Regions from separate parts of the Homo sapiens genome. Here region 1 is linked to region 2. Evidence: fine-mapped expression QTL. A gene starts in region 2. The other region holds a variant in brackets. All regions are shown on one strand. Distances are between the middles of the regions. Region 1 has its middle 27 kb from the start of ABCD4. Region 2 holds the start of ABCD4 (ATP binding cassette subfamily D member 4).

Evidence for each region. PIP is the estimated chance that this variant, and not a neighbour inherited with it, causes the effect.
Region 1: its variant is the best candidate, but not a certain one, in a credible set for the expression of ABCD4 in monocytes after R848 (Quach 2016, PIP 0.64).

Annotation. Positions count from the first base shown.
Region 1 is chr14:74,273,341-74,277,728 of GRCh38, forward strand. No RefSeq gene overlaps it. Among named protein-coding and RNA genes, the nearest start is that of ABCD4, 27 kb to the right of the region's middle. The variant C/CA (reference allele first, on the strand shown) is at 2,763.
Region 2 is chr14:74,300,717-74,305,104 of GRCh38, forward strand. It overlaps ABCD4 (ATP binding cassette subfamily D member 4), which reads right to left and starts at 2,218. Exons shown (of 19, transcript NM_005050.4): 1 at 2,159-2,218. The coding sequence starts at 2,196. It also overlaps a transcript of VRTN not described here. RefSeq lists a silencer at 1,967-2,046 and an enhancer at 2,307-2,666.

The DNA.
Region 1 (4,388 bases), 27 kb before region 2:
CGCTTGCCTGGCCTATTTTTGCATTTTTTTCTAAACCATTTGATAGTAAGTTGGGGACATGATACCCCATTACCACTTAATACTTCTGTGTATATTTCCTTAAAATGAGGATACTCTCCCACACAACCAAATACGACTAACAAAATCAAGAAATTGACATTGATTTGTCCAGAAGGGTGTTAAATACTATCAACTAGTCCACAGAACCCTGATCATTCCAAAAACGTCCTTTATCAACTGTGATCTGATCCAGGACTGCACGCTGAATTGAGTGACCCAGTCTCTGTAGTCTCCTCCAATCCATAACTGCCTTCTGTGACCTTGACGTTCTTGATGATTTCTGGCCAGTTACTTTATAGAATGTCCTCAATTTGGGTTTTGATATTTCCTCATAAGACTCAGGTTGCATACCTGAATCTGCATTTTTGGAGAAAATTCCATGGAACTGGTTCTCCATTCTCAGTGCATCATATCAGGAAGCACACCATGTTGTTCCATTCCTGGTGATGTTAATGTTTATCATTCGATTAAGATGGTACCTGCTAGCCAGGTGCAGTGGCTCATGTGCCTGTGATCCCAGGACTTTGGGAGGCCAAGGAGGGGCATATGGCTTGAGCTCGAGAATTCAAGACCAGCCTGGGCAACATGGCAAAACTCTGTCTCTACAAAAAATACAAAAATTAGCTGGGTGCAGTGATGTGTGCCTGTAGTCCCAGCTTCTCGGGAGGCTGAGGCAGGAGAATCGCTTGAGCCCAGGAGGGGGAGGTTGCAGTGAGCCAAGATTGTGTCATTGCACTCTAACCTGGGCAATGGGAGTGAAACCCTGTCTCAAAACCAAAACCAAAACAAAAAAAGATAGTACCTGCAGGTTTTTCCATTGTAAAGTTAATGAGTATCATGTACTTATTAACAAGTATTTTGTGGGATGATGCTTTGAGACTATATAAATATCTTATTCCTCATCAAACTTTAATCCACTACTTTTAACATCTGTTGGTTCCTCTTGTCTGGCTTTTTAGTGGAGAATGGTATTTAGGTACCAAAATCTAGGCACAAGGTATGCTTACTGTTATTGTGGTACAGTTGCTTCTAGGCCTTCTCAGGGGACAGAGTTGGGAAAACACACTGTATAGTGCTTACAGGTGCACTTTATTATTCTTTTTAAATTTTTTAAAATGTTACTATTTTTTTGAGACAGTCTCTTGTACTGCTCAGGCTGTAGTGCAGTGGTGGGATGAGGCTTACTGCAGCCTCAACCTCCCAGGCTCAAGTGATCCTCTCACCTCAGCCCTGCCAAGTAGCTGGGACTACAGGTGTGTGCCACCACACCCAGCTAATTTTAAAATTTTTTGTAGGAAAAGAAAAATATTTAAATTTTTTGTAGCTCAATATGTTGCCCAGACTAGTCTTGAACTCTTGGCCTCAAGCAATCCTCCTGTCTTAGCCTCCCAAAGTGCTGGGATTACAGGCATGAGCCACTGTGCCCGGCCACAGATGCATTTTGAATATCCTGGCATGAAAGACTTCCCAGACCCCTTTTCTCTGACTGGAGGGGTCCAGGGTACTTTGATGTCCCCAAGCACATGTAGCTAATACCTCACTCACACCCCTGGAATGAACCTTTGAAATAAGCAAGAATTAGGCTTTCTCTAGTTTCAAGTCCAGCCTGCCCCCCACTATAAGCCACACACCCTTGCACTAGCTACTGCTTTTGTAAATGGGTTTGGGACAGTTTTTAATAAAGGCAGCATGTGCTAGAACCCTAACCAACGATTTATCAACATGGACACTAGACTGTCTACTCTTCTAAGTGCTAGGGGTATAGCAGTAGCAGTCTAGATTTCAAACACAATCAACTTACAGTGGGGGTGGGGGGTATAGTTATTCCAGAAAACCTAGGCTAAAGCCAGATGCTGCAATAGACAGTAGGATTTGGTTTTGATCCTCCCAGGAGACTGGGTGAAGTGGAAGCATGCTGATGACTTAGCATACTTCCAACTGAGTGCTGAGTAACAGAAGGCAGAGCTATCAGCCAGAGAGCATTCTGGGCTTCTGCCTATATTAGTCCGTGACTGCATAGTGGATGTGTGTCCAGAGTTAACCATAGCCCTGTGAGGCCACTGGCTGCATGTGGCTCCCTGGCCGTGGTACATCAGGATTAGAGGGGTGTGATGATGGCCACCCCCGTCTGTAACTAAAGGGAAACCAGACTCCTCTGGTGGTTCTATCTGCCTGGTGGGGTGCAGAGAGGGCTGTGGTTGAGCTTGGTGGCATGGTGCCAGGTCCCCTGGGACAGCACCATCTTTTCCACTGGAAGGGGGAGACAGATGGTAGGAGGAGTGTACTCTGTGGCTATGCTAGGAATGGAAAGTGCTCACCCACCTGACCACCCCTGGCAAAGCTGGGGGCCAGGCCCACTCTTCTCTGGAAGCTGCGGTTTGGCTAGCGAGTAGGGACAGATGTCAAGAATGTGGACAGACTGGCTGGGCGCAGTGGCTCACACCTGTAATCCCAGCACTTTGGGAGGCCGAGGTGAGCGGATCACTTGAGGTGAGGAGTTCAAGACCAGCCTGGCCAACATAGCGAAACCCCATCTCTACTAAAAACACAAAAATTAGCTGGGTGTGGTGGCGCCTGCCTGTAATCCCAGCTACTTGGGAGGCTGAGGTGAGAGAATCGCATGAACCCGGGAGGTGGATGTTGCAGTGAGCCAAGATCATGCCACTGCACTCCAGCCTGAATAATAGAGTGAGACTCTGTAT[C/CA]AAAAAAAAAAAAAATTACAGGAAGAATGTGGGCAGACAGAGTGAGCAGTGTGTGAGAAGACACCCTGGGCTGGGAGGACTGGCGTCAGGGAGAGGCCCTGGGGTACCTCCTGAGCAGAAGGGCAAGGGTGATCCATGTGTCCCTAGATGGGGAGGGCCTCCCCCAGACTCTCTAGGCCTGCCTTGGGGGAGCCGGTCAGACCATTTTGTTTTTTTTTTTTTTGAGACGGAGTTTTGCTTTTGTTGCCCAGGCTGGAGTGCAATGGCGAGATCTCGGCTCACCACAATCTCCACCTCCCGAACTCCCGACCTCAGGTGATTTGCCTGCCTCAGCCTCCCAAAGTGCTGGAATTACAGGCATGAGCCACTGCGCCCGGCTGGTCAGACATTTATTGAGAGCTCCCTATGCCTGAGGCTCCTTGCTAGCCCCATGTTTGACGACCAGGTCTGCTGCTGCCAGGACAGCTAGAGTGGGGCTGGAGTTTGGGGTATAGAAGTGGGCAAGGGCAGACACGGGAGCCTAGACCCCTGCAGGGGTGCCACAGGAGGGTAGCATGGGAGGAAAGGCCAGGCCTCTGACTCCACTGCTCACTCACCTGTCCCAGCGCCATCTCCTCATTCTGGGCTCCTGTCTGGACCAGTGCCTGGAGAATTCTGTCAGCCTCAAGACTTTCCCTGCCAGAGGCTGTTGGTGGCTACATTCAGCTTACCATGCTGGCTTGGTACCTGGAGTGCTAGGCCTGACTTCTTCTTGCCCAGTTCAAGCACCTAGAGGCCACTGGGGTAGAGTAAGAGGATGAAGAGGACTGGGGTGGGTGTGCGGGAATGTGTGGGGAGGGGCCTGGGGCTGGGCCACCCTGGGACGAGCGGTGTTGGACAGGAGCAGAGAGTAAGCTCGGAGCACTCATTTGGTGGGCTGCAGACTGAGAAGACTTGCTGGGGGCAGAGTTCTTGGGCTGGGACTGCTTTTTTTTTTTTTTTTTTTTTTCCGAGACAGAGTCTTGCTCTGTTGCCCAGGCTGGTGTGCAGTGGCGTGATCCCAGCTCACTGCAACCTCCGCCTCCTGGGTTCAAGCAATTCTCCTGCCTCAGCCTTCTGAGTAGCTAGAATTACAGGCACACGCCACCATGCCTAGCTAATTTTTGTGATTTTAGTACAGACGGGGTTTCACCATGTTGGTCAGAATGGTCTCGATCTCCTGACCTTGTGATCCACCTGCCTCGGCCTCCCAGAATGCTGGGAGTACAGGCGTGAGCCACCACACCGGGCCAGGACTGTTCTTAAAGCAGTAGGATGCTTTTTTTTTTTTTTTGAGATGGAGTTCCACTCTTGTTGCCCAGGCTAGAGTGCAGTCGTGCAATCTCGGCTCACTGCAACTTCTGCCTCCCAGGTTCAAGTGATTCTCCTGCCTCAGCCTCTCAAGTAGCTACAATTACAGGCATGCACCACCACGCCTAGTTTTGTATTTTTAGTAGATGGGATTTCACCATGTTGGTCAGGCTGGTCTCAAACTGCTAACCTCAAGTGATCCACCCGCCTTGGCCTCCCAAAGTGCTGGGATTACAGGCGTGAGCCACCATGTCCAGCCTGCAGTGGGATGCTTTCTGTCTTTGAAAAGGCACATGG
Region 2 (4,388 bases):
TACCTTAAAAACCTATACAGGGGAAAACTGATGAATTTAACTTCATTAGAGTTAAATGTTTTTATTCAACACAGTGCCATAGATTAAGTTAGAAGACTTGGAGGTGGTATCTGCAGAGTGCAAAACCAACAAGGACTTGAAATCTTTATTTTTTTGAGACGGAGTTTTGCTCGTTGCCCAGGCTGGAATGCAACGGCGCAATCTCGGATCACTGCAACCTCCGCCTCCCTGGTTCAAGTGATTCTCCTGTGTCAGCCTCCTGACAAGCTGCAATTACAGGTGCATGCCACCACGCCCGGCTAATTTTTGTATTTTTAGTAGGAGACGGGGTTTCATCATATTGGTCAGGCTGGTCTCGAACTCCTGACCTCCGGTGATCCACCTGCCTCGGCCTCCCAAAGTGCTGGGATTACAGGCGTGAGCCACCGCGCCTGGCCTAAAATCTTTTTTTTTTTTTTTTTGAGACAAGGTCTTGCTCTGTTGCCCAGGCTGGAATGCAGTGGTGCGATCTCAGCTCAGGGCAACCTCTGCCTCCCGGGTTCAAGCGACTGTCCCACCTCAGCCTTTTTAGTGGCTGGGAGTACGGGCGTGCGTCAACACGCTCAGCTAATTTTTGTATTTTTGGTAGAGATGGGGTTTCACCATGTTGCCCAGGCTGATCTTGAACTCCTGGACTCCAGTGGTCCACCTACCTCAGCCTCCCAAAGTGATAGGATGACAGGTGTGAGCCACCGGGCATGGCCAGGATCTAAATCTAGAGCCTACAAGAATTCCTGCAAGCCAGGAACATAGGAAATCCACAGAGAAGTGGGAAGGGATATAAACAGGCAATTCAAAAAAGGGAAAACCCACGTTTAATAAACACATGAAAATGTAGGCCGGGAGCAGTGGCTCACGTCTGTAATTCCTTTATGCACTGCCCGTCGGGAAGTGTAATCCCTGCACTTCGGGAGGCCGAGGCGGGTGGATCACCTGAGGTCAGGAGTTCAAGACCAGACTGGCCAACCCCCCCATCTTTGCTAAAAATACAAAAAATTAGCTGGGTGTGGTGGCGCGCGTCTGTAATCCCAGCTACTCAGGAGGCTGAGGCAGAAGAATCGCTTGAACCCGAGGCGGAGGTTGCAGTGAGCCGAGATCATGCCACTGCATTCCTGCCCGAGCAACAAGAGCAAAACTCCGTCTCAAAAGAAAGAAAGAAAGAAAGAAAGAAAATGTACACGATGGGATACCACCTTACACCCCCCAGACTGATAAACATTACAAAACCAGCCGCCACTGAACGATGGAGGGATACCGGGAAACAGGAAGCTTTATGCACTGCCCGTCGGGAAGTATAAACTAGTGTGACCATTCCAAAGAACAATCCAGCAAAATTAGATATGACCAGGACCCAACTCTGGGGTGGATACCCAGAGAAATGCAACAATATGCACAAGGAGACAACTGCCAGAATATTCGTTACAGTGTGGCTTGTGGGGGTGTTAATACTAGAAAAAAATCTATCCACCACTAGGGGAATAAGTCTATGCACACAGCACCCCTCATGCAAGCACTCAGAAGTGAAAACAAGATGACTAGCATGGATGGACTCAAAAACACAATGTTGAGGAAAAAGGTTTAAAGAAAAATCACAGCATATTATATTGAAGAATTCGAAACCGCTATATAGATTTCAAAGTAACACTTGCACAAATTTACCCAAGGTGGACCGTAAAGCCACTTATATAACACACCAGAGTGGCTGTCTGAAAAGGGGAGTGAAAGGGGTCTGGGAATAGGAACGAAGAGAGGAAGTGATAAAATAAACAAGGAGCCTTGCATTGGCCCACAGGGTGTCAAGAACTGAGAAGGATCAACTCAATTTTGTGCACCTGAGGTTCTTCTTTTCAAAAAAAGAATGCCAGTTGCGAGGGTGAGGGTCCCACACCGCAGGAGATGGCACAAGTCCGGCCAAGAACGGAGGGGGCCGCGGCCGGTGCGGAGCGGCCTAGAGCGGCGGGAGGGCGGACGCCCCTTCGAGAGCTCCTCTTTCTCTCAGAAGTCACGGGGGCGAGACGGGGGCGCCAGGGCGGCGGACGAGGCACGGAGGGCAGGAAAGCCCATTCCCTACAGCCCGGAACTCCTGCTCCCAAACCTCCTCCCCGACCGCCCTGCTTACCTGGCGCCAGCTCCGGGCGCGGGCCCCGCGACCGCCATGACCTGAGACCCGAGGGACTCTGGAGCCCAGCTGCCCCTAGTTCAGTACTGGGTAGAGTCCGAGGAGGGGCGGGGCCCCGGCTACCACAGAGACGGCGTTTGATAGAGAGGAAGGTGCGGGAGACGCGGACTCTCCCGGAAGCGACCGACGTCTCTAAAAGTACCAGAGAGTGGACTCGGCTGACCCGGCGGCTACAGCGCCCCCATATTTTCTGGGAGACTTCCCTTTTGACAATAGGTATCCGAGAGTGTAACTACTTTATGGCAAGTATTTTAGATTCTGTGTATAATAGATGTTTTACATATTCTCCCAGAGAAGCCAGCATGATCTTTAAAAAAGTATAAATTAGGCTTCCAGCCGGGCCCGGTGGGTTACTCCTGTAATCCCAGCACTTTGGAAGGCCAAGGCGGGAGGATCGCTTGAGCCCAGGAATTCAAGACCAGCCTGGGCAACATGGCAAGACCCCGCCTTTACAAAAGACAAAAGCATTAGCCGGGGATGGTGGCGAGCGCCTGTGGTCCGAGCTACTCTGGAGGCTGAGGCAGGAGAATCACTTGGGCCCGGAAGGTCAAGGCTGCAGTGAGCCGTGACTGTGCCACTGCACTCCAGCCTGGGCGACAAAGAGAGACCCTGTCTCAAAAACAAATAAATAGATGATAATGATCGATAGATAAGATAGATAGTTGAATGAATGAAATGCTTATCAGTTGACTGATTAGTACCCAAAGGGAGGTGGGAAATGGCTCAAAAAAAACCCAAACAGCATGATCCCACAGGTCCCTAAATTTGAATCTGGATGTGTCTTCTCACTTTCCTCCAATCCTTATTAAGTTTCAACTGCAAGCCAAACACTCTACAACATGCATGTATCACTTGTCTTTATGAAAGTTGCAGTCTAGCTGGGTAGGTCAATCAGTTGACAATTACAGATTTTTTTTTTTTTTTTTTTTTTTTTGATACGGAGTGTTGCTTTTGTTGCCCCGGCTAGAGTGCAATGGCGCGATATCGGCTCACGGCAACCTCAGCCTCCCGGATTGAAGCCATCCTCCTGCCTCAGCCTCCCGAGTAGCTAGGATTACAGGCATGTGCCACCACGCCCAGCTAATTTAGTATTTTTAGTAGAGACAGGGTTTCTCCATATTGGTCAGGCTGGTCTTGAACTCCTAACCTCAGGTGATCTGCCCGCCTTGGCTTTCCAAAGTGTTGGGATTACAAGAGTGAGCCACCGCTCCTGGCCTTTTTTTGTTTTTGTTTTTGTTTTAGACGGAGTTTCGCTCTTGTGGCTCAGGCTGGAGTGCAATGGTGCTATCTTGGCTCACTGCAACCTGTGCCTCCCGGGTTCAAGCGATTCTCCTGCCTCAGCCTCCCGAGTAGCTGGGATTACAGGCATGCACCACTATACCCGGCTAATTTTGTATTTTTAGTAGAGACGTGGTTTCTCCATGTTGGTCAGGCTGGTCTCGAACTCCCGACCTCAGGTGATCCACCCACCTTGGCCTCTCAAAATGCTGGGATTACAGGTGTGAATCACCGTGCCCGGCCTACAGCTGTCTTTATGAAGTGCTATGACAAACATACCATACAGCAGGGGTTCTCAACTTTGGCGCCATTAAGTTTTGGGGCCTGATCATTCTTTGCTGTGTAGGCTTTCCTATGCAATGTAGGATGTTTAGCTGTATCCCAGGCCTCTACGCACTAGATGCCGGTGGCATTCCTTCTGACCTAGGCATCCCAAAATGTCTCTAAACATTGCCAAATGTCCCTTAGGGGAGAAAGGACCAAAATTCCAGCTTTACCCCACCCCCTAGCATTGAGAACCACTGCCCCAGAACCAAAGAGAAAGGCATTTAACTCAGCATGGGGAAAAGTGGAATCTAGAAAGACTTTGAAGAGGAAATAACTTTATTCAAGTATGTCTTTCTTATTTTGAAAACCAAAAAAATAGGATGCAATTTTTGAAAAATTAATAAGGCAACCAAAGTATTAAAGCAAGCAACGTCACCTCTCTAGGGTAATCTAGGTTTACAGATCTTGTCCCCTTTCAGTCTCAAAAATGTCCTAGTTTGGTATTCGGTGGCATTACTGTCCCAGGGTGCCTCAGCATTGTCTATTACTGTAAACTTTTAAGAAGTAGCAGGCTGGGCACGGTGGCTCACGCCTGTAATCCCAGCGCTTTTGGAGGCCGAAGCAG